5 linked regions of the Homo sapiens genome follow. The protein of the gene in region 1 interacts with the protein of each later gene in a pairwise test. Each region holds a gene or a part of one and is shown in the gene's direction. Other genes may lie near its edges.

Region 1 (3,519 bases):
CTCTGAGTTCACAGAGCTCAGTAAGTGGCAGGGTTGGAACTCACATTCAGACTCTCTGACTCCAGACTTAGGTTTTTCCGCACCTCCACGCTGAGGCCAGCCCCAGGCAGTGAGAAGCCCAAAGTCCGAAGCACAGAGTGCTGTGTGTTGGGCTCTGTGTGTTGAGGAGTCTTGTGACTGCCTTGGGGCTTTGGGCTGTAGTCAGCTGACAGTCCTTTGTGCTCTGTGGGGATGACGTAGGCCAATGGGAGGACAAATGCCCCTCTGAACTGTCTTCTGGGCAGTGACAGTCATGGTCATAATCCTGACCCTGAGCCAGTGCCAGGTCTCCAAGTGCCTTCTGAATGACCACAGGCGATTGGTTTTAGTGGTAGGTGTGTGGGGATCTGTTCTGGTCATCTGGATGCTGGTCATCGGTGTGCAGTATTGATCAGGACCTGCAAACCCAAAAGCTTATGGGAGCTGGCACGTCACGTGAGTAGAGCAGGCAGGTGCAGGGGTTTTGATGTCCCTGCACTGACACAGTTGTCTGCAGTTCTCAATTGACATTTCGCTCCAGTGTCGAGGGTCAACAGGAATGTTGGGGCGTGGGGCAATCTGGAAGACACAGGGAGCAGGGCCCTTGGCTCAGCTGATAGTTGCCGCAGGGATTACAGGCCCAGGGCAGCCTGCCACAGCTGGGGCTTTTACCAAAGAAAATCTCCCTATGTTAAATGCTTGCTCAAAAATTTTTAAAAAATATTCTGTAAGTCAAAATCCATTGTTAGGTCAGTTTGAGAGAGCCATGTTTTTGGTGTTTTAGTAACCAATTTCATTTTTTTATTATTTATTTATTTGTTTATTTTTGAGACGGAGTTTCACTCTTGTCACCCAGGCTGGAGTGCAATGGCATGATCTCAGCTCACTGCAACCTCCGCCTCCCGGGTTCAAGCAATTCTCCTGCCTCAGCCTCCTGAGTAGCTGAGATTACAGGTGCCCACCATCACGCCTGGATAATTTTTGTATTTTTTAGTCGAGATGGGGTTTCACCATGTTGGCCAGGATAGTCCTGAACTACTGACCTCAGATAATCCGCCCACCTCAGCCTCCCAAAGTGCTGGGATTACAGGCATGAGCCAGCACGCCCGGCCACCAATTTCATTTTTTAAAAAAGGAAGAAAGAAAACCTTAGCCAGAAGATCTTTTTCCTTGCCATATGCAGTAAGAGTAGATTATAAAAACAAAGTCAGAGCAGTCACTGGTGTCTGGGCATGGAGGAGAAAGAAGAATTCTCTTCTCCCTTCACCCTCCATGCCCCTTTTTGGCTCCATGTGATTCAGATTTCTGGACCCTGGAGCCCCACCCCAAGCTAAAGACCAGGATACAGGGAAGCCAAAAGCCACTGGCGGTTCTGAGAACTTACTTTTCACTTATTCTGCATTTACTGTTTCCTTTTCTTATGCAGAAAAAGAAAAAAACCAAGGTAGGTGTGTGGGTAGAGAGCATGAAGTGTGTGTACTCATGCATATGTATGTGCATGCATGTGAAGTGTGCATGTGTGAGCTCATATGCATCCATGCACCAGACTTGCCTCTTCCTCCCCCTCCTTCCTGAGCTTCTGCTGGGGCCGAGCGTGCAGTAATGACAACTACGATTTGCTGGGGGAAGGCTACGTGCCAAGCACTCTTTTAGGTGCTTTCCATGATTAATTCCTTCCTCACAACAGCCCTATGAGATTAGTACTATAACTATCCCCATTTTCAGAGGGAGAAAAGGTACAGACTTGACTAACTTGCCCAAGGCCACACAGCCAGAGAGGGGCAGAGCCAGTACTTAGAGCCAGGCAGTCTGGGTCCAGAGTCCGTGTCCTGAACCACAAGAGGCCATCATACACCATCAGATTTGGTGCTAGCATTTCTGGTGGTGCCTGGTGGTGATGGATCCATCACAGGGGTCCTCCAGGTACTGGTGCTGGCCCAGACCAGAGCTGACACTCCTCAGGCACTACCACATTCCAGGCACTGTGCTTGGGGTCAGTCCCTCTCTTTTTTTTCCCCCCCAATTATAACAGTATCTACAAAGTAGGTGCTGTTATTTTTCCCCTTTCACAGGTGAGATAGACTCAAAGAAGTGAACTTGCCCAAGGAACAGAACTAATGAGTGGGGAAAATGGAACTGGAAACCATGTCTGTTTACTCCAAAACCTGTGTTTCTTGCCCTCTTTCTCTGATGCCAGCCCCCTACACTTCAAGGCCTGTGTTGTCCAGACCCACACTCGGGCCTGCCAGTGTGTGCCTGGCAGGGATGCTCCATGGCCACACCATATCCATCCTACACATCCCCCCTCAGACTGTGACCTCCATTTGCTCTGGGATCCCCACAAGCTTCAGCTGCTTGAGCAAGACACTGCTTAGAAGGCAGAGCAAGCCAAGGCCTCTGGGGCCTGCTGGGAGCCAAAGCTGGGGAGCCGTTTCCACGGGTCTATCTGCTTGAGCTGTCCTAGATGAGCAGCATGGAAGGGCAGTGGTGCATGAGTCCAGGCGGGCTGCTTTTCTGCTCCGAGAGGCTCTGCCTGCCCAGTTGTTCTCTGCATTGCAGCCTCAATCCCCACAGCCTTGCCTTCCCCCGGCTTTCCCTACAGGTGCACCGCATCCACAGTGTTGGCACCATGCAGCAGCCGCTCTCCGTCCTTTTCATATCCTTGTCACTTGCACGAGCATGTCTTGAAAATATCCCTTGTTTGTGTAGCATCTTAAATGTTTTTGCAGTATGATTTTGCATTCAGTATCTCATTTGATCCCCACAAGAGCCCTATGAGGAGGGAAAGCAGATTTTACCATTAAAGGATGAGTAAACTGAGGCCAGAGAGGATATTTTTGGTTTTTTTTGAGACAGTCTCACTCTGTCACCCAGCCTGGAGTGCAGTGGCTTGATCTTGGCTCACTGCAAGCTCCACCTCCCATGTTCACACCATTTTCCTGCCTCAGCCTCCCAAGTAGCTGGGACTACAGGCACCCACCACCACACCCAGCTAATTTTTTTGTATCTTTAGTAGAGATGGGGTTTCACCCAGTTAGCCAGGATGGTCTTGATCTCCTGACCTTGTGATCTGCCTGCTTCGGCCTCCTAAAGTGCTGGGATTACAGGCGTGAGCCACCGTGCCCGGCCAGAGAGGATATTTCTTATATGAGGGGCAGGGCTGGGATTCCAGCCCAGTGTTCTGATGGCTCACCCACTGACCATGCCACTAATCCGTGTCCTTTTTCAATCTATACTTTGCAGGGTTGTAGAGGTTCCTTTGAGGTGCCTCAGTAGCTGCCATGGTGATGTGGGGTGCTGAGGGCAAAGAGCTCTGTTCTCATTAATCAGAGAAGCTTGTGTTTTTATATACACCATGTTTCTGCAGGAAATTTAATTTGAACAGTGTTTCCATCTGGAAAAAAAAAAGTCTACAAAATACTTGACAATCACTGCACTAGATCATGCTGCTTTTAGCATTCTTAGCATTTCACGTGCTGAGCTCTCAATACTCTACCATGA
Region 2 (3,519 bases), on another chromosome or scaffold:
TCCTACCTTTTACTTCTTATGTTCCTTAGGTTCCTTAATGATATTTGGGGGTGGTATTCTTGCAATAGTTTCACAAATTTATGATTTTAATATTTTTTTTATTTTAATTTCTGGTTTTGTCGCATACTGATTTTTCTTTTAGTCTGTTTTGGCTTCCTCCTTTCTTCGGGTAAAATATATGTATAACAAAGTTTTCCACTTGATCCATTTTAAAGTATGCAATTCAGTGGCTTTCAAAGTTCATCTGTGTTGTATGCATGTATCATAACTTCATTTCTTTTTATAGTTGAATAATATTCCTTTGTATGTATAAACCACATTTTGTTTATCCATTCCTGTAATTGATGGACACTTGGGCAGATTCTTCTCATTTTAGAAACTATCTTTTCAATCTAATTTTTCTCAGTTTTTCTAGTTTTTGTTCAATTTTTGCCGCTATCTTAGCTGATACCTATTTAGGTGTTGTGTGTGTCTCTTTTGCTTTTAACATTTTATATGTTAGCCCCCTAGTCTTCCTAGACTTTTACTGTTTATGTTTTAGTCTTTGAAATTCTTTTCCTTTTTGTAGTGTCTTGCCTTAGTTTAGTACTTTCTTTACTCATTTAGAAATTCTTTATAACTTCTTTTTATTTCATTTTTGTGTTTTTTGTACATCTTTCCTACTTCAGAAAGATAAAATTTTTAATTTCACCTATTGAACTAAATTTTGGACCTTTAGGTTATTTTATTTTGCATTGTGTTTAGAACATTTTGTCATGTCGTACTTTGTCTTAACACTTAGTTTATAAATAGTAGACAGGAATTACCATCAGAGTAACAGCTGTGATATTAGCTCACATTCTAAACAGAAGGTTGACTATTTCTTCCCTCCATTTGTTCCTGAAGCAACTTTTCCGTTCTCTTTTATAGATTCCCACTACCTGGAAACTTTAACCTGACTCAATAACTCCAAGTATTAATAGTTCATTTAGTAATTCCTTTACCTGATAAAGTAATCCTGCTGTCACATGTCATGTATCAACCATTCCCTCTATGAGAAATGATGTAATGTAAAAGCCATGGTCTTTATCACTGAGACCTGGGGAAGCTTTATAAAGATGCCCCGGCAGCTGTGAAAACACCTGTAGAGAAGAATGCACATTTCCTTCTTTCAGCAAGCATCCACTGATTTCCAACTCTGTCCACTTTTATAGGGTGTAATAAAGTAGAAAAAGTAGTTACTGCTTTTAGGTAAATTAAAATGTCTGCTTAAAGAGCTATTACCTATATAAGTTAACTAAGGAACAGAAAAGTAGCATGTGTAGTGGGAATGTTAGAAGGCAAAAGATCCAGCCACGATTGGTGTGACTGAACTAATCAGGACTCCTAATTTTCCTGACTGAAAAAAATAGGGAGTTCTGATCAGGCATACTGGCTCACGCCAGTAATCCCAGAACATTGGGAGGCCAAGGCGAGCAGATTGTCCGAGCTCAGGAATTCGAGACCAGCCTTGGCAACATGGCAAAACCCCAACTCTACCAAAAAGACTAAAAATTAGCTGGGTATGGTGGCGCACGCCTGTAATCCCAGCTGCTTGGAAGGCTGATGTGGGATGATTGATTCAGCCTGGGAGGTCGAGGCTGCAGTGAGGTTGAGGCACAGTGAGATCTTCAGCCTGGGTGACAGAAGGATACCCTGTCTCAAAAAAAAAAAAATAGGGAGTTTCAACTTGTCATTCTGTAGAAAGTCTTAGAGGTGCTAAAATTTCATGATTCTATACCTCTTGTTACCTTAGCAACAAATTACTGCCTAAAAGTTTGGGGACTCTTCAGTATCAACTTCTGCAGTCTAACTGTATATCAGAAATCCTGGAGAGCTTTTTAGAAATGCGGATTCCTGGATCTCACCCCACATCTGCGTAATGAAAATCTCTATGGTTGAGGCCTACACATCTGTTGTTTGTTTGTTTGTTTGTTTGTTTGAGACGGAGTCTTGCTTTGTTGCCCAGGCCGGAGTGCAATGGCATGATCTTGGCTCACTGCAACCTCCACCTCCCAGATTCAGGCAATTCTCCTGCCTCAGCTGCCAAGTAGCTGGGATTACAGGCGTCCACCACCATGCCCAGCTAAATTTTTTTGTATTTTTTAGTAGAGACAGGGTTTCACCACGTTGGTCAGGCTGGTCTCGAACTCCTGACTTCAGGTGATCCACCTGCCTCGGCCTCCCAAAGTGCTGGGATTACAGGAGTGAGCCACCATGCCCGGCCCCAGATCTGTTTTTTGAAGTTCACATCAGGTAATTCTGGAACTCACAACTTGACTGACACTGGACCTGAATTTAGAAATTGGAAATGTTTGATGATCAAGTGTTGCCGATCTAAACCTTATTGAATTCATTCAGTTCTGCAGTTCTTATTGGCAAGTACCTCTGCTTTCCATTTTACATTAGCCAGATGGCAAGATGAACTTACTCTATTATACTTACAAGCCAGCCAGTGATATTCAAAGACTAGCATCCATCCATCCAGATATCACATTTCTTTATCTTCCACATCATCCTGCTCTGCTCTGCCTAAAAAATAATTCCCAAAATCTTTAATAGTGATAATTTGAACAAGATACAAAATGAAATTGTATAATTAAAGAGAGAAGACTAAATCCTTTGGTTAAACATGTCATTTGCCTATTTCTACAATACAGGTTAGCAGCTCCTGCAATAGTCTCATATTCATATGTGTGTGTGTGTGTATATATATATATATATATATATATATAATATGTAGTTTTGTATATCTTGCAAAAAGTTTGAGCTACATCCTTTTAAGCAATAGAATGTTATTGAAAAATGTAGGCGCAATCAGATTTGCATTTTAGAAGAATCACTCTGACAGAATAGAGAATAAATTGGAAGTAGGAAGCCTTGTCAGTAACTCAGATGAGTGAAGATGAGAGTCTTTACAGGGTGATTGCTTTTTTTTGAGACAGTGTCTCACTCTGTCACCCAGTCTGTAGTGCAGTGGCACAGTCTCTGCTCACTGCAACCTCCACCTCCCAGGCTCAAGTGATTCTCGTGCCTTAGCCTCCTGAGTAACTGGAATTACAGGCATGTGCCACCACACCCAGCTAATTTTTTTATATTTTAAGTAGAGACAGGGTTTCGCCATGTTGGCTAGGCTGGTCTGGAAGCCCAGCCTCAAGCAATCCACCTGCCTTGCCCTCTCAAAGTGCTGGGATTACAGGCATGAGCCACCGCAGCTGGCCCTGATTACATTTTATTTGAGACATCTTAATGGAAGACTAGAGAGCTTGAGTGATAATTCCTCATCTCTTTGGATTCTAAAATCCAAAAGCCTGTTAGAAAACAAATGATTTTTTTTAACTGATTGGAGGCTGTTGAGAATGGGCAAAACCTGACCTAAACTGACACAAAGCTATTATGATCTTTATCCCAATTAGTAGATGTTTAGCTCTAAAATGTTACTGCATTTGATTAGAGTGTTGTTCCCCTGTAAACTGAGATAAGGTACCCAGTTAACATTCC
Region 3 (3,519 bases), on another chromosome or scaffold:
GCTCCCTGAACCTCTGCAGGGACCTGCTCAGTTTGGGCCTCAGTTTGGGCAGGGCCAGTTGTATGACTCATGAAGGACAGGACTACTTTCTTTTTGCAAATGGCTGATTCAGGATTTAAACCCAGGTCTGTCTACTGCCAGAGCCCATGCACATAGTCCTTGAATCTCTTTAGAAGAAAACAGGAGGAAAAAAGTCCCCAAGTCACCAGCCGCAAGGTAGATAAATGAGTTGATAGAGGTAAAGGAAGGATGCTGGAGTATAATGATTCCATATCACAGCCTCTGGAGCCAGATTGCTTTGTCCCAAATCCAGATCTACCATTTGTGAACTGTGTGATCGTAAGCAAGTTTCTTAACCTCTCTGTGCTTCAGTTTCCTCCTCTGTATAATAGGGTTAGTATATCTACATTACAGAGTTTTGAGCATTAAATGAGTTAACATATTCTGACTTTAGTGCCTGGACATATAGTCAGCACCCAGCACCAACAAGTGGTAGCCATGCTCTCTATAGCTGTATGTCCTGTCGCTCAACTAATGGGTGACCGTGCTGGTTTGGGAACCCAGTACTCCACCCAGTGCTCTGGGACCCCTGGCTTATTTCCTGTCTGGACTATGGCACTGGGTTGGGGGGCTGATTGCTACAGCCTGCTTTGGTCAGTACTGTGCCATCCTAATGTGGCTAATTGCCTTGGGGGTGTGCATTTCTTTCAGCAATACCTGAACACCTTCTATGGCTGCCCCAAGGAGAGCTGCAACCTGTTTGTGCTGAAGGACACACTAAAGAAGATGCAGAAGTTCTTTGGACTGCCCCAGACAGGTGATCTTGACCAGAATACCATCGAGACCATGCGGAAGCCACGCTGCGGCAACCCAGATGTGGCCAACTACAACTTCTTCCCTCGCAAGCCCAAGTGGGACAAGAACCAGATCACATACAGGTGCCGGGGCAGGGCTTGGGGAGGCAGGGCCATGGGGCTGAGGGACACGAGTCTCCTTGACCCATGCATTCTCTCCACTCAGGGGATCCATGAGGTGTCTTTTGTGAAGGCTTGACATCTTAGGGAGTTTCAATACACAGTTCTTAGAAAATGAAGTCAGACAGACTTGAGTTTCATACTTGCTGGCCATGAGACATTGGGTTACTTTTCAGTGCTGTGAATGTTGGCTTTCCAATCTACAAAATGGGGCTTAAAAAATGCCCTTATATGGTATGTTGGGGAACTAAGCTAGGCTGAACTAATACAAACGGCTTCTATGATTTTTGACACAGAGCAAGAGTGTAGTAATGCTAGTCATTGTTATTGTTTTTAGATGAGGTCATTGGGATGGGCAGAAGGAACGTGATGATTGGTAGCTAATTGGGTTTAGCAGCCCAATTGGGTTATAACTGGTTGCTAATTGGGCCAAGAGCTGTGCTCTGTATGGGTGGTGCTGGGTTCCAATGGTGGGATCTTTGCCCTGTGCCCCATAATGCACTACTTATGGCCCTCCCCCACCAGCCAGAAGTGACAGATGGAACTCCTGAGCTGGGGCCTAAAAATGTTGGCTGGCCTGGGACTCCCTGGGTCTTCAAGGCATTCTGGGAGGGTTGTCCTTGGCAGTGAGCCCTGCCCAGCCTACACACACATACACGCAGGCACATGCTCACATATACATACACATACCTGTGCACCCTTCCCGTGCTTGTGCATATACTTGTATGTTCACATACACACACACACTCAAACTTTTTCATACATCTGTGCACACACACATACTTGCATATACATACACTTATGCACATGCATACACACTCACATGCAGTTCTACCACCTCCAGGATCATTGGCTACACACCTGATCTGGACCCAGAGACAGTGGATGATGCCTTTGCTCGTGCCTTCCAAGTCTGGAGCGATGTGACCCCACTGCGGTTTTCTCGAATCCATGATGGAGAGGCAGACATCATGATCAACTTTGGCCGCTGGGGTAGGCAGAAGATGGGGCAGAAGAGGGGCCAGCAGGGATCAGTGTTGAGACGAGGGGGTGAGATGGACATTAGAGGGGCGTGGGGATCCTAAGGGCGGCTTAGATAGGACAGTAGATGGTGTGGGCCCTGGGGGTGGTTTAGATGGGGGCAGCACAACACGGAGTGGACACTGGAGAGCCACGTTGACATGGGGGCAGATGGTGTGTTGTGGTATAACCTGGAGGCCGTCTAAACCCGAAGCAAGTGGTCTACTGTGCTGTCCAATATGGCAGCCATTAGGCAGAATATACATGGCTGTTTAAATTTAAATTAGTTAAAAATTTTAAATTAGTTTCCTGGTCACACTGGGCACATTTTAAGTGCTCAAAAGACACAGGAGGCTAGTGACTATTGATTTTGGACAGCACAGACAAAGAATATTCCTCTTAATCACAGAAAGCTCTGTTGGATGATGCTGGTAGACACTGAGGAACTGTAGATATATGAGAGTGGTTTGGAAACAGTGGAGCAGTGTAGACACTAGAGGAAGGGTCGTAGAACCTGGGGCCAGGTGGCCATGTGAGTTTATGGTGTGAACACTGCCAGTAGCACAGACATAAAGGTATGTGGTATAGACACTGAGTGGTAAGTGATGAAGGTAAAGAGCAGGGGAAACAATGTAGACAAGTGGGTGGGTGGTACAGGCCTTGGTGACAAGGTGGGCATGAGGATTCATGTTGCAGATATTGGTGATAGTGTGACATGAAGGCAGGATTGTGGTTAAGAGGGCAGTATTGACAGGATGGAGGATGGCATAGACACTGGGGATGATGAAGATGGGGTGAGGACACTAGTGTGGTAATGTGGGTATGTGGTACATATAGTGTCATGGTGGTAGAGTAGACAATGGAGGTAGAGGGTATGGATACTGGGAGTCATGTAAACCTGGGAGAGCAGTGTAGACCATAGGATGGTAACAACCAGGTCAGCAGATCTCTACTGAGCTCCTGTTGACAGTCCTGGATAACCCCACTGGGACAAGGGAAGGGGACAGATGCTGGGTGGGCTGACAGGCTCCACATGTAGATGGGGTGTGGAGGGGTTTCAGGGTCTAGGTGGCACAGCTAGACGCTAAGACCCAGTGTGTGTTTCAGAGCATGGCGATGGATACCCCTTTGACGGTAAGGACGGACTCCTGGCTCATGCCTTCGCCCCAGGCACTGGTGTTGGGGGAGACTCCCATTTTGATGACGATGAGCTATGGACCTTGGGAGAAGGCCAAGGTGAGAAAGGGGCCCTCTGCATGCCCCAGACCTTCTCTCCTGTCCTCTCTCCACTCCATTTGCTTGGACCAGAGAGGTGGGAGGGGAGGAAAGTCACACATCTGGGTGAGTCAGAATCTTGGTCTCCAAAGAAGGCCTGGAGAAGTCCAACCTCCCCCTTCCATGTCACTCTTTAGTGGTCCGTGTGAAGTATGGGAACGCCGATGGGGAGTACTGCAAGTTCCCCTTCTTGTTCAATGGCAAGGAGTACAACAGCTGCACTGATACCGGCCGCAGCGATGGCTTCCTC
Region 4 (3,471 bases), on another chromosome or scaffold:
AAAACAAAAAAACATGTAAACCATATTTGTTTAGCTTGCGGGAGGGAGGCTGAATTTGGCCTGTGGCTGTAGTTTGTTGAACCTTGAACCTTGCAGTGGATGAGCACTGAGGAGTGAGACTGAGTTTTTGACTTGGTGCATCTGGCAGCACTGCATGGAGGAGGTGGAACTAGAACTGGTCCCTGATGGGTCGGGATGTAGTCGTAGTGGCAAACTTGTGTAATCTTCACTTTGTGCTTTTCATGTACTGACTCACTGAATGCAATATCCCCAGACGCTAGGTAGTTTTATTACCCTAGTTCCATATGTGAGGGAACAGAGGCACGAGGCTCACTAGCTCATCTGACGTCCTGTGTGCATATGGGGACAGAATGGAAACCTGGCATTTAACCTCAGAGTCCACACTTGCAACCACGGCTCTTTGGTATGGGTGGGGGTGCAAGGAAGCAGCAAGGTTTCTGTAGATGATGAATTGCCGGTGGGATAGGTGGGTTGGGGCTGGGGTTGGGCAGGAGAGGGCAATGCCTCGATGCAGGCTTTATTTTATGTTCACTCCAGGGAGGAGGTTTTTAGAGGATGTCACGACTAGGGTTGAGTGTCAGTTAATCTACCTGTCTCTGCTCTGAAGAGTGCTTTCTGTCATGGATTGACATTATTTAATGGCCAGCATGGTAGACTTAGATGGTAGGGTTGTAATTTCTAACGTGAGCCCTGACACTAATTTAGTAGACGGTAGTCAAAAGGTGTGTTGGGATGTGTGTGTGTCCATGTGCACACACGTGTGTAATTGGAGTAATTGATTTTCATTTATTTTTATTTTTTTTGAGACAGAATCTCACTCTGTTGCCCAGGCTGCAGTGCAGTGGTTTGATCACGGATCACTGCAGCCTCAGCCTCCTGGGCTCAAGCCATCCTCCCACCTCAGCCTCCTGAGTATCTGGAACTACAGTTGTGCACCACCGCGCCTGGCTAATTTTTGTATTTTTTGCAGAGATAAGGTTTGGCCATGTTGCCTAGGCTGATCTTGAATTCCTGGACTCAAGTAGTCTGCCCACCTTGGCCTCCCAAAGTGCTAGGATTACAGGCATGAGCCACTGAGCTGGGCTGGAGTAATTGAATTTTATTTTCTTATTTTTCTTTTTCTTTTTTTTTTTTAGAGTCAGGGTATTGCTATGTTGGCCAGGTTGGTCTTGAACTCTTGGCCTCAGGCAGTCCTCCTGCCGCGGTCTCCCAAGGTGCTAGGATTACAGGTGTGAGCCACTGCACCCAGATGGAGTAATTGAATTTTAAACTCTGGGCATATACTGAACCTGTGCACTACTTTGTTTCATTTGTGAGCTCAATTATAGAAAAACCAAAGTTGTTCACAAGGGAATCTTTCACAAGCTATCTCTTTATTTGCTCTTTCTCTATTTAGGAGCAGATGGAAAAGTTGAAGCAAAAGGCATCAAAGGTGATCAAGGCTCAAGAGGATCCCCAGGAAAACATGGCCCCAAGGGGCTTGCAGGGCCCATGGGAGAGAAGGGCCTCCGAGGAGAGACTGGGCCTCAGGGGCAGAAGGGGAATAAGGGTGACGTGGGTCCCACTGGTCCTGAGGGGCCAAGGGGCAACATTGGGCCTTTGGGCCCAACTGGTTTACCGGGCCCCATGGGCCCTATTGGAAAGCCTGGTCCCAAAGGAGAAGCTGGACCCACGGGGCCCCAGGGTGAGCCAGGAGTCCGGGGAATAAGAGGCTGGAAAGGAGATCGAGGAGAGAAAGGGAAAATCGGTGAGACTCTAGTCTTGCCAAAAAGTGCTTTCACTGTGGGGCTCACGGTGCTGAGCAAGTTTCCTTCTTCAGATATGCCCATTAAATTTGATAAGATCCTGTATAACGAATTCAACCATTATGATACAGCAGCGGGGAAATTCACGTGCCACATTGCTGGGGTCTATTACTTCACCTACCACATCACTGTTTTCTCCAGAAATGTTCAGGTGTCTTTGGTCAAAAATGGAGTAAAAATACTGCACACCAAAGATGCTTACATGAGCTCTGAGGACCAGGCCTCTGGCGGCATTGTCCTGCAGCTGAAGCTCGGGGATGAGGTGTGGCTGCAGGTGACAGGAGGAGAGAGGTTCAATGGCTTGTTTGCTGATGAGGACGATGACACAACTTTCACAGGGTTCCTTCTGTTCAGCAGCCCGTGACAGAGGAGAGTTTAAAAATCCGCCACACCATCCATCAGAATCAGCTTGGGATGAACTTATTCAGATGGTTTTACTTTATTAATTCCTCCAATTATTACAATAATCATAAAAAGGTGAAAATGGAAAAGTTATTCCCAAAACTGATTCTGTGTAACTTACTATTTTTCCAGGAGTAAATATTTAAAATAGCTGCATGGTTTATTCTAATTTATTTCACATTTCTTATTCCTATTATCTGAAGAATCCCTCGTCTGTGCGTTTCTTGTGGGAAGAGTGTTTTAATATCATTTTAGTGCTCTGAGGAGTCATATGAAGATGTATCCCTCATCTGTGTTTCTGAGGACATTAAGGGGAAATTAGAGGGAAATGTTTATTCAATTTAGTACTAGCAACAGCTTTAAGCTGGTGATGCTGTCATACTCCAGAAAGCTGTAGACACTGCTCATTTTGTCTTTTAAAAAAATTTTATTTTATTTTAAGTTCTGGGATACATATGCAAAACATGCATGTTTGTTACATAGGTAAACATGTGCTGTGGTGGTTTGCTGTATCTATCAACCCATCACCTAGGTATTAAGCCCTGCATGCATTAGCTATTTGTCCTGGTGCTCTCCCTCCCACTTTGCTCATTTTCTAACCTAGGTTTTAATCACCATTTTACCCAACAAATCATTGTTCGATCATTATTTGCCAGACTTGAATCTCTATGTGTTTTCTAGGACTGCTCTAATAAAGTACACAAACTGGGAGTCTTTAAACAACAGAAATGGACTTTCTCACAGTTCTGTAGGCTGGAAGTTTGAGATCACCGTAGCAGCAGGGCCATTCTCCCTCCAAAGGGGATACAGGAGGATGCAGCCTTGCTGCTTCCAGCTTCTGGCAGCTGGTGGCAGCATCACTCCAGTCCCCGCCTCCATCTTCAGGTGGCTGTCCTCCTTCTGTATCAGCCAAATTTTCCTCTTCTTACAAGGACAGCTTCCCTAATCTACTATGACCCATCTTAATCATATCTGCAGCTCCTTATTTTCAAATAAGGTCACATGTACAGGTTAGGACTTCAGCATCTCTTTTGGGAGACACAGTTCAACACAAAACAATCTGCCCTCTGATTCCCAAAGTTGATTTCCTTCACCTGTGCAAAATACATTTTCGCCCCATCTCAACATTTCCAAAAGTCTTAACACTTTCCGCGTCGAGCTTTCCTGAGCCCCTCTGGTGCAGCCACCTGCCTGTCCCATACACCCCGCCCACCATGGAGTCCAGAGGGAAATGAGCCAGCAG
Region 5 (3,519 bases), on another chromosome or scaffold:
GAATTAGCTGGGTGGGTAGGGATTATCTAAAATGGAATTTGTCTTTTAGTTTGGGGATTAGCTGGGAGGGTAGGGATTATCTGAGCTGCAGTTGTTCTGTCAGTCAGGCCATTGACTGGATTTGGGGGCCGTGCATGCACTAGCCCCACCAGCCTTATCTCTGCAGACACCAGCTCCTTTCTCTGCTTCCTTCCTTGCAGATGATGGGAAGCTGTCCTTGGAGGAATTCCAGCTCTTCTTTGCAGATGGCGTCCTTAATGAGAAAGAACTGGAGGATCTCTTTCACACGATTGACTCTGACAACACCAAGTGAGCTTCAGTCCTGGCTGGCAGAGTGGGGGTGTGTGTGGGCTGTGGTGGAGGCATCTTTTCATCTAGTGTCCGTTCCTAGTCCCCTGTAAGGGGCAGGAGAACTGAAAATCCCCAAATTTGCTAATCCAGAAGTCAGCTCTTCACTGCCTGGGGTGAATGGGGCGTGTGCAGATTCATATTGCATTGGCTACTATCGCAAGTGTGTCTTCTGAGTGCACATGGCCAACTAAGGAGAGACTCCTGGTTTTGCACAGTGGACATGGGATTATGAAAATGGGAAGGTGGCAATGACTTCATCCTTCTGCCATCTTCAGCCAGCAGCCAGTTCTCACCCCAACCCCAATGCCTGTGTGTCCTCCCAGTCCCAACATTAACTGTGAGGTTGAACGTCATCCTAACACTGACTCCTGTGTTAAACCAAACACGAATCCTAACTCAACACTACGTCTATCATTATAGCTTATTAAACCTTTTCTCCAACCCAGTCATAACCCTGACCTGCATCTCAGAATCAGCCAAAAACTCTGTCTCCACCCATCTCTAAATCAAGTGGAAAATGCAGATTCTACTCAGACTTACCCTTGACCCTTCCCAGCCTCACCTCCAATCTTGCCCTTTTCTTGGGATTCCCCAGACAGGATGAGGTCTGAGCCCTCTCCTCAACCCCACCTTCAGGAGGGATCAGAGCCCCACCTGGTCTCCTTTCTCAGGCCTACTCGCGTGATGAGGACCCAAGCTTCTGGAGGGCTGCTTAGGGCACATTTGGTAAGCGGAGGTTCTCTGAGACTGACTAGAGATGGTCTGGACAAGGAGCTACCACCAAACCAGTGTGCAAGGGGTAGAGTACAGTGGTGGTTTGGACCAGAGGCTGCGGCTGAGAGAGTCCTGGGGGGCACTGGCTGGGGACCGGGATATGGTAAGTGGAGCAGATACCATCCTCTGGGAAAGGCCACTTTAAAGAAATGGCTTCAGGCTCCAGACTGCAGAATGGAGAACTGTCTGGGGCCAGATGGAGATTTCTGAGCTGTTACTGCAGCTTCCTGGGGTGCTTTGAAGGGGCCAGGCAGGTGCCCATTGATTTAGACCTTCTCTTTCAGGGCCTTTTGTGTTAGGACCAGCGGGGTAGAGGAGGGGGTGGAGGCGGAGGGAGGAGGAGGCACTGGTTTGAGAGTCGAACTGTGAGAGTACGTGTGGGTGGGTGGGGGTGCAGGGAGGACTCGCGGTTATGGAAGGTCAAAGCTCTATAAAGACTTTTAGGATTAATCTCCCCAACATTACCTAAGGTGTGAGCCACGAACATTAGCCCCTTGGGATGCTAAATAGACTTTGTGCCCAAAACAGTGTACAAACCATCAAAAAGTTTTGTGAAACATGAATTAAAGCAGAATGACAGGGTCGCTTTCTGCAGGACTTGCCAGAACTCTGAATATGAGATGGAGGTTGGAGGCACCTCCTGACAGAGCATGCAGAGCCCCCGAGTGCAGATTCACTGGGCCACAGAAGCCTTCTGTCCAGATGTGCTTTGCTGAGCCTGGGCTCCACTGAGCACGATGAGGGACCTAGGCCCAGAAAGGGCCACCACCGTATTGGGTCCCTTGCACATTGACTTGGCAGTAGCTCCTTATCCAGACCATCTCTAGCCAGTCCCAGAGGGCCTCAGCTTATCAAATCTGCTCCTAAGCTGCAGAACCACCATAGTTCCCAGCACTGCACCCCTTATCTTGGGGCCGGTCTGTGCTCCTTCACTGCCATGGGGGATAGGCTCATGCTCAGCCTGCTCCCCCAAGAAAGGACAGGACCCTTCTCCAGGCTGTAGGAATGGGGATATGGGACCCAGGGGCTGCGACCAGAACAGGAAGGGCTCTGCCACAACCCCAGGAACTCCAGGACCCAGCAGGCAGGGTCGACTGGGGGTGGGTCAGTGGGTCAGATGAGAGCTTTGCTGACAGCCCGTCACAGTAATGGGTCCCCACTCTCTGTCCCTTTACCCCTTTCCTGGCCCCCAGCTTGGCCCTCCCCTTGGTGTCATTTATTCATGATGGGGTCAGCAGACTCCGAGAAAACAGAACAAGGGTGGGTGGTGTGGGGGATCAGACAGACGTGGGCCTTCAGGGGCGGGGGTGTCACCTACCTGCTGCACCCTCTTCTGTAAGGCGGAGCTTGTGGGGCCAGCACACAGGCTGCAAAGAGCAGGCAGGATGTGTGTTTCGCAGGCTGTGCAGGGTCAGGCCTGCTAACCCCCTCTCTGTCTCTGTCTGTCTCTGCCTCTGTCTGTCTCTGCAGCCATGTGGACACCAAGGAGCTGTGTGGTAGGTGCCTGGCTATGCTGGGACCAAGATGGGGATGCTGGGATGGGGCTGGATGAGAAGGGCCTGAGGCAGGGGAGGCTGGAGGTAGCGCAGGTGGGAGGTGCAGGAGTGCTGAGTGGGAGGGGCAGGACCTGTGACCCCTGACCTTTGCCTTTCCTTCCCCAGATTACTTTGTGGACCACATGGGTGACTATGAGGATGTCCTGGCCTCCCTGGAGACCTTGAATCACTCTGTCCTGAAGGCCATGGGTTATACCAAGAAGGTCAGTGGGTGTAGGTGGCCCCCGGGGTCCAGGGCTCCAGTGCTGCTTCAGTTCCACCCTTGCCTAAGGATGCCTGGATTTTTGAAGACAGGCCGCCAGGGAGGCCTATCTCAGGGGTGGGCTTTGCCTGGGCCTCTTTGAAGCAGCTGAGATGAACTGGGAAGGGAATAGAATGGTTTGGTGAATGGCTCTGGTTGGGAGCAGGAGGCATTTTCCCGGAATCAGGCCTGATCCTGGGCTGGGGCCTTAGAAAGGGTGGCCGCAATCACCCTGTGCCCTTAAGGGGTCCCCAGACAGGTGTCGTACCCTTCAGGGTGGGCTTACAAGACTGGAAGAGGGGGCGGGGTGGGGCGTGGTGGGGGGTGGTGGTTCATGCATCTGAACCCTGTCCCATATCAGGTTCTCGATGCTCAGCACCTGGTTTAATCCTCACAGCAACCCTATGGGTGGTTGCTGTCACCTCCACTATCTCACAGCTATGGAAACAGAGGCTCACAAAGGTGAACTCAACAGAGTCACAGCCAGACAGCCATAGCTGCTGGCTGGGATGAGTGGGGAAACTGAGTCAGGGACCTGGCAATAGGCATGGGAGTGTAGCATGAGACTCCAGGCACACCCAGGAGGCAACTGGAGAG

The links.
Region 2: the proteins of CAPN3 (region 1) and PREPL interact in a two-hybrid assay, tested with the Homo sapiens proteins (one large-scale study listed by BioGRID and IntAct).
Region 3: the proteins of CAPN3 (region 1) and MMP2 interact in a two-hybrid assay, tested with the Homo sapiens proteins (one large-scale study listed by BioGRID and IntAct).
Region 4: the proteins of CAPN3 (region 1) and C1QTNF9 interact in a two-hybrid assay, tested with the Homo sapiens proteins (one large-scale study listed by BioGRID and IntAct).
Region 5: the proteins of CAPN3 (region 1) and NECAB2 interact in a two-hybrid assay, tested with the Homo sapiens proteins (one large-scale study listed by BioGRID).

The regions. Positions count from the first base shown.
Region 1 is NC_000015.10:42,404,482-42,408,000, forward strand, and holds part of CAPN3 (calpain-3), read left to right. Parts: intron 1-282; exon of another isoform or gene 283-474; intron 475-1,444; coding exon 1,445-1,462; intron 1,463-3,519. UniProt on the Homo sapiens protein: Calcium-regulated non-lysosomal thiol-protease. Proteolytically cleaves CTBP1 at 'His-409'. Mediates, with UTP25, the proteasome-independent degradation of p53/TP53.
Region 2 is NC_000002.12:44,354,986-44,358,504, reverse strand, and holds part of PREPL (prolyl endopeptidase-like), read left to right. Parts: intron 1-3,519. UniProt on the Homo sapiens protein: Serine peptidase whose precise substrate specificity remains unclear. Does not cleave peptides after a arginine or lysine residue. Regulates trans-Golgi network morphology and sorting by regulating the membrane binding of the AP-1 complex.
Region 3 is NC_000016.10:55,482,198-55,485,716, forward strand, and holds part of MMP2 (72 kDa type IV collagenase isoform 1 preproprotein), read left to right. Parts: intron 1-711; coding exon 712-938; intron 939-1,818; coding exon 1,819-1,967; intron 1,968-3,101; coding exon 3,102-3,230; intron 3,231-3,406; coding exon 3,407-3,519.
Region 4 is NC_000013.11:24,319,579-24,323,049, forward strand, and holds the end of C1QTNF9 (complement C1q and tumor necrosis factor-related protein 9A precursor), read left to right. Parts: intron 1-1,417; coding exon 1,418-2,190; 3' UTR 2,191-2,953; downstream 2,954-3,471. UniProt on the Homo sapiens protein: Probable adipokine. Activates AMPK, AKT, and p44/42 MAPK signaling pathways.
Region 5 is NC_000016.10:83,978,244-83,981,762, forward strand, and holds part of NECAB2 (N-terminal EF-hand calcium-binding protein 2), read left to right. Parts: intron 1-200; coding exon 201-309; intron 310-2,595; coding exon 2,596-2,621; intron 2,622-2,786; coding exon 2,787-2,884; intron 2,885-3,519. UniProt on the Homo sapiens protein: May act as a signaling scaffold protein that senses intracellular calcium.